Homo sapiens: one gene and its partner. The protein of the gene in region 1 interacts with the protein of each later gene in a pairwise test. Each region holds a gene or a part of one and is shown in the gene's direction. Other genes may lie near its edges.

Region 1 (3,817 bases):
TTGAGGTAGGAGCCCAGATCAAATGTAGAGGCTGGGAGAGACGGAAGCCCTCGAGACAACAACGTTCCTGAGCATAATCTGGGCACCAAAAGTGGAATGCGAGTCCTTTTGACCAGTAAAATTCATCCCCACCCCTCACCCCAGACAAATGAGAGAGGGAGTAATTCTAAGATGTAGAGAAACAGTTGGGAAAAAACTTTACAGAGGAGGTGGTATTGGAAGTGAGCCTTGTAGGTTTAGGAGGGATAAGGGCAGACTTTCACAATTTGTTTTTCCTTGTTTTTTTGTTTGTTTGTTTTGTTTTCTAAAGCCACACCAGGAGCAAGCGAGTATCAGAGGCAGAGCTTCTGAGCTTGCCTCAAAGGCAACACTATAAAATATGGTCCTTATTTTGAAGAACATCTCAGTCAAAGAGGGTCAAAACAGTGATTTTGCAGCGTGGTCACTTTCATTCCTGCAGCGCCTTTCCTCTAAGAACAGGCTCATGGGTAGGGGCTCCAGCTCAGATTTCTGGGAATTATTTGATTTGTCCACTCTGTTCCCAGGTGTGCACATCAGCATTAACCAGCTTCCCAGAGCTAGGTGGCTGGCTCTTTGACCCAGGGCCCAAGGCTGTCAGCAGTGGGAGTTGGTCTCTTTATTAAGTTCCATCTGAAATGCTAAGACCAATGATGGAATCACAGGCTGGTTTATTTTCTTGTCATTATTCTTGGCTTTAATTTCTTCCTGGGCCTGATCGACAGGTAGTATTGGTGAGGGAATTTCTTTTTCCTTTTTTCTGACAGCTCATAAATGTCTAGAACCGACAACATGGATTACACGGGCTTGCATTCCCTCAGTCTCCAGTCTTAAAATGTTTGTCCTGCGCATGTTCAGTCGCACAGTGAAGTGTTGATCCCTCCTTATTATGAGCTGCTTGGGCTCCAGTCCCAGTTGGTTTAGTCTGGTGCTATTAAAAATCTTGATGTGTTTAGCATATGACACTGATTCGGTGGAAACCAATACAGTAGTAATATCCTCACAATGCATTGTAATTTATAGTGCTCCCAGGGGATGACAGCCTTGGAATGCCTAACAGGGGAGAACTTATGAAAGCAGAGGTCACGTGGACTAGCCACCACCATAACCAGGCCAGAGAATAGCCGCAGCTCCTCACTCCCAGCCCCCCGTGCCACTTCTCTACTCCTCCACACAGAGCAAATAAAACAGCTATAGCTGCTGCGGCTGTAAAAACAAACAAATAAAACCCAGGCCTCTTTGTTGTGCTTGGATATGAAACTGAAATTAAAAACAAGTCCAGGTTTCTTCATTTGTAGCACCATGTGCCCTGATATCCCTTATTAACCTGTCACTTCTCCTAGTGGCAGGTGGGGAATAGACCATGGCTTCCAAACTCCTCTTTCTTAAAAGCAGAAATGGAGAAGACTGTTCACAGGAGAACACTGTTTGGCTAAAGTTGACCTAATAATGATATTAATAGCGTGACTCTTACTGGGCACCATGCTAAGTGCTCTACGTGAATTACCTCATTTACTCGTCCTCGTTAAAGCCCTATGAGGTAGATACTCTTGTCTCCATTTTACATTTGGAAAAAATGGAAGCTCAAAGAGGTTAAGCACCTTGTTGAGAATTATGTAGCTAGTTTCTAAGCCAGGATTTAAGCCTAGTTCTGTCCAATTAAGAGCCCATGCTTTAGTCCTCAACAACATAGTGCTGGGAGTTGAGAACACTTAAATCCAACTTTCTTTTCTTCTTACTGTTTTTCTTTCCCCAGAAAGGCCTGAGTGTGGACTGATGGGCAGACAGGAGGACCTCACTTGAGCCACTGGGCCCAGCTCTAGAACAGCAGATCTTTTTCTTACTCTTCTTCCTATCCACCACTGCTGCCCTGGCAAAATACTCTCCATTATTAATTTTTAAGTATAAATAATCCCAGGGGTTGAGCTGGCTTTTGCTTGTGCATTCTATGAAGTAAAGTAGGGACATGGTTTTTGTGGCAATAAATAGGAATAGTTTCCATTTTTCTAGCTAAGTATACAAATTTGATAATTAGCCAAACCAGTTTTCTGTTAGAAAAATTCAAAGTAATTTACAGAGGAAGAATTGCCAATAGGTGTGCGTCAGTCTGGGACAGAGTTCCTCCCGTCGGTGTTAATAAGCATGTTAGTGTCCTGTTTTTTTCCTACCCTCTCAGTGCTATTCATTCCCACCCCCCACAATGATTGCTGCATGTATTCATAGAGGAAAAAACTGAAGGCCCCACAACAATGATCGGAACATCAAACCAGCCTGAGAAGAACACAGCATGTCCAAGGGGGCTGAGGCTGAAGGGCAGGCCATCCCCCAGCGATTACATTCGGATTACCGACTTAATCTGCTTTGGTATTTGACCGCCAGCCTAACCACCCCAGGCTGCATTTGGAGGATATTGAGCACTTTCATCCCCAAGCACTTCACTGGCTTTATAAATGACCCACTCGATTCCCTTCGGCCTCCTCTGGGATGGGACATGGCAGCTGTTTAATTGCCACATAGCAATGTTGCAGTGTTTTAAGGCAGAAAAGAAGAATCCTGCATCCAGTTGAAGCTGCAGGGAACATTTAGGGAAGGGGAATGTAATTATCCACATTGGAAGTGGGCCAGGGTTTGGAGCTTTGGGGAAAGAGGCCTTTAGGACTTCTACTTTCCAGCCCACCTGAAAGATGGGGCCTCCTTTCAGCAGTCTGGGACATCAGCCTGCTTCCTGCTGATTTAGGAAAAAGCCCCCAGGCGCCACCTCCTTTATATATTCCCCATCAGACTCTTCACCGGGGTGGAAAGTCTCTTTTCCAAGGTCTGGCTGGGGCTCAGCTGGGAAGATATGACAGCGTCCCGGGAAGCTGCCTCACACCAGTTTGGGTTTAACATATAATCAAATCAGAGTGACAGCAGATGGAAACAGTCTTCTGTTGCCGCAGGAGCCGTCCTTGAGTTCAGAAACAAAGACGGGGGCAAGAAAGACAAGACAAAGTGTGCATTTGTACATGTGTGTTCACACCCATGCACTTGTGCATAGGAAAAATAAGAAGGACTTCCCCAAAATCTTTTATTGGGTCTTATCTCTAGAGGGAATGGGAAAGGAGACTTTCTTCTACATTCTAACAAAGAATTTAATTCTCAAGGTGTTTAAACAAAAAATAAAGGTGAAGCAGCCAGAGGTGTCAAGTTCCCTGAGTGGTTTTTAAGGTCAGAAGTAAGGAAATCAGCAGCTGACTTTCTTCCTTCTTTGAGTACTTCTTGGGAAGTTTTCTGTGTAAAACTCAAAATTTTTTGGAGTAAAAGTGCACAGAAAACCCTGGGGTGGTTGTCGTCCCTCCAGGCCACCTTGGTGCATTATTATGCATTAGGACACCCATTTTAGCAAGGCCCATGACTTACAGGGGCACCTCACTTATCCAGCCCTAGGTCGTGAGGTAGTCCTCATAATTTACTTTTTCAGATAATCAAAGCTTACCCTTTAAAGGCCAAATATAAAAAATAAATTGAGCTACTTAAAAAAAAACAGAAACCTTTCAAAATATTACATGTGCTTATTGAACACTTTCAGAATAAAGTTTTATTAATAATTCAAATTCTGGATTTGGAGTTAGGAGACCTGGAGTTTAGCCGTGGCATTTGTAAGATTGTCTCCTTGAGCCTCAGTAATTCTTCATAGTCTGTTTCCTAGAGAGTAGTGGCAAGGGTTGAAAGAGAGCAGTCAGGGAAAAAATGCTATTTCTCATTTTAAAAATACAGACATTGGGTAGATGCTTTCTTTTTTTTTTTTTTTTTTTTTTTT
Region 2 (3,109 bases), on another chromosome or scaffold:
CAGTGTTGAAGTGCTGTCTAGTATCCTAAGTGCAAGGAGGCTGTGAAGCCTGACGGAGAAAATGCCATGTTACAGACGCTTCGCTGAGCCCAAGTTAGAATGCTGTTGACACGAGCTCCATGTTAGAGAATAAACAGTGATGTTACATAACAAACACATGGAAATAGAAACACACATACATGAGGCCAGGCGCGGTAGCTCACACCTGTAATCCCAGCACTTTGGGAGGCCGAGGTGGGTGGATCACGAGGTCAAGAGAATGAGACCGTCCCGGCCAACATGGTGAAACCCTGTCTGTATTAAAAATAGAAAAAACTAGCTGGGCGTGATGGCGTGCGCCTGTAGACCCAGCTACTTGGGAGGCTGAGGCAGGAGGATCGGTTGAACCCGGGAGGCGGAGGTTGCAGTGAGCCGAGATCGCGCCACTGCACTCCAGCCTCGCAACAGAGCGAGACTCCGTCTCAAAAAACAAACCAAAAAGACCAGAAACACACAAATGAAAATACGCATAGACCCAGATTATATATATATGGATTGATGAAAATACTGTAAGCCGAGGCTCGAGAGAGCCTAACCCTGTATTCCAGTAGGAGCAGTGGCTCAGGATCAGCTAATTGGAGTGTTCACGATGACTTTCTAGAACCTCACTACTGTGAATAAGGGGAACTGACTGTATCCCCTGGCACCAGCCCTGGGCTGGCCCCGCTGCAGCAGGGAACAAGACAGGTGCAGTCCCCTCCTTTGTGAAGCTTTGTGTCGAGCACGGGAGTGGGACCTTGATCCAGTAATCCTGGAGGCAGAGATCTAGCTTAAAGCAGCCCAGCTCCGCGGAAAGGTGCCCTTGGGGGACTGACGCAGCTGTGGAAGGCTGCGTCATCAGGGGTGATGTCATCATGTGACAGGAGACGCGAGCTAAAGGTTAAGTGGTGTTGGGCCCAGTGAGTGGGTGGCGATGGGAGGTGAGAGTGTTCCCAGCAAAGGGAATGAAGAGGGAACATGCCCCTGACAGCCCCCTCTTTCTGCCTCTTCCTCAGAATCCGGGGCACCAGCTACCAGAGCCCTCACGGCATCCCCATAGACCTGCTGGACCGGCTGCTTATCGTCTCCACCACCCCCTACAGCGAGAAAGACACGAAGCAGATCCTCCGCATCCGGTGCGGGCAGGACCAGGCCGTGCGCCTGAGACGCAGGGCTGGGGTCTACCCTGTTTGACAAATGCTGACACTGAGGTCCAGCGGAGTGGCATGGTGGCTGGGCCTACAGGAGAGAGGGCTGAGCGGGCACCCAGACGGTGGCCTCCGATCCGGGAGCAGGAGCCACGGTGGGAAAGGGAGGCGAGGTACCCGTGACTGGTGTTGGGGCCAGCGCCCTGGGGGTGGTCAGGAGGCCTCGGTTTTAGGTCCAGCCCAGCCCCTGTCTCCGTGGCTCTTCTAGCCTCAGCATTCTATGGTTCTAAGATGCAGGCGCCACATATTCCCAGTGGGGAAGGGCCAGAGGGTTGCTGTGGCCACTTCTGCTGCAGTCAGAGGCTGGGCCCCGGCTGAGCCACCCCTGTCCCCCACTGCTTGCAGGTGCGAGGAAGAAGATGTGGAGATGAGTGAGGACGCCTACACGGTGCTGACCCGCATCGGGCTGGAGACGTCACTGCGCTACGCCATCCAGCTCATCACAGCTGCCAGCTTGGTGTGCCGGAAACGCAAGGTCAGCCGGCCGAATTAGCCAGCAGGGCCAGATGGCGGCAGTGAGTGACACAGTACTTCAGGGGCTTCCAGGGTTCCGATTTCATCCTAGAATGTACGTTTTCAGACGCAGGGAATTTTCATCCCTCAGGTTGGCTTCTGTATCATCCAGCCTGGCCTATAGTAGGTATCAGTAAATCTCTCTTGACTTAAGTAGATGCTGTTAGGTCCACCTTACAGATAAAGAAACTGAGGAATGAAGAGGCTGGGCCCACAACAAGGAGATGGCCAGGCAGGATTTGAACCCAGGCAATCTGGCCCAGAATGCCCTCCCCTCACATGCCACACTCTGCTGCCTAGAGCATGGAGGTGGCATACGCTGGGGTCTGTGCCTTGAGCCTCACGGAGAGGGGCCCAACTGAGGACTCGCCCTCCCCCTCCAGGGTACAGAAGTGCAGGTGGATGACATCAAGCGGGTCTACTCACTCTTCCTGGACGAGTCCCGCTCCACGCAGTACATGAAGGAGTACCAGGACGCCTTCCTCTTCAACGAACTCAGTAAGAATCCCCACCCCGCACCTGCACTGCCAGAGCCAACCTCAGAGGGAGGAAGAGGGAGCTCGGCGTAGAAGGCTCAGGCCCTGCCACCTGGGCGACACTGACCATGTGGCCTTCCTTCTCCCCACAGAAGGCGAGACCATGGACACCTCCTGAGTTGGATGTCATCCCCCGACCCCACCCTGTTTTCCACCAGAGTTCTGACACTGTGACTCTGTATAAAATGGTTGGGAAGCTGCACCCACCCTGTGTATGTGTGGTTGCCCTGAGCCCACAGAAAGACACCTCCAGAGTGCGGATTGAGAAGCCTTTATTGTGGGAGGATCGGGGTGTCAGGGCTCCAGGAGTCGGGATGGACTTGGAAGGCTGCGGGGAGGGTCTTTAGAGGAAGAGGAGGCCTGAGAGTTGGGGGTGGTCACAGGTCAAGGGGTGGTCTTTGGGACCCCCACAGTCAGAGGTGCTGCGGCGGCAGGGTCCACAGCGACAGCTGAGAGCCACAGGGAAGGAGACCACGGGGTCCACACCACGCGGGCAGCCAGGGAGCCGGATGGACTCGAAGCGCACATCACGGTAGGTGCACACCACCTGAGGCAGGGGCGGCAGGACCGCCTGCAGCACGCGCATCTGGAGGCCGTGTGAGTGGGGGAATGAGCATGTGCCTGAGGCCAGCGCCTCAGCTGAGCTCCCAAGCTGACCCCACAGGTCCTGGACTCAGGAGCCCAGGAAGCCCTCTGTTCCTGCCTTCCCACACCCCATTCCCCAACCGCAGGCCAGAGAGGCAGACCACCCTTCCTCCCCCGCTGCCTCTGTGGGTCTGGCCCTGAGGTGGCAGCATCTGCCCCTGGCCCCAGGCAGCTCACCATGGTGGGGCA

What was found.
Region 2: the proteins of DPCD (region 1) and RUVBL2 interact in binary tests that used the Homo sapiens proteins (3 or more experiments, as listed by UniProt).

Annotation. Positions count from the first base shown.
Region 1 is NC_000010.11:101,594,819-101,598,635, forward strand, and holds part of DPCD (protein DPCD), read left to right. Parts: intron 1-1,774; coding exon of another isoform or gene 1,775-1,821; exon of another isoform or gene 1,822-3,196; intron 3,197-3,817. UniProt on the Homo sapiens protein: May play a role in the formation or function of ciliated cells.
Region 2 is NC_000019.10:49,013,450-49,016,558, forward strand, and holds the end of RUVBL2 (ruvB-like 2), read left to right. Parts: intron 1-1,034; coding exon 1,035-1,154; intron 1,155-1,571; coding exon 1,572-1,701; intron 1,702-2,122; coding exon 2,123-2,237; intron 2,238-2,367; coding exon 2,368-2,393; 3' UTR 2,394-2,521; downstream 2,522-3,109. Other genes in the region: LHB (lutropin subunit beta), read right to left, coding at 2,619-2,861, 3,098-3,109. UniProt on the Homo sapiens protein: Possesses single-stranded DNA-stimulated ATPase and ATP-dependent DNA helicase (5' to 3') activity; hexamerization is thought to be critical for ATP hydrolysis and adjacent subunits in the ring-like structure contribute to the ATPase activity.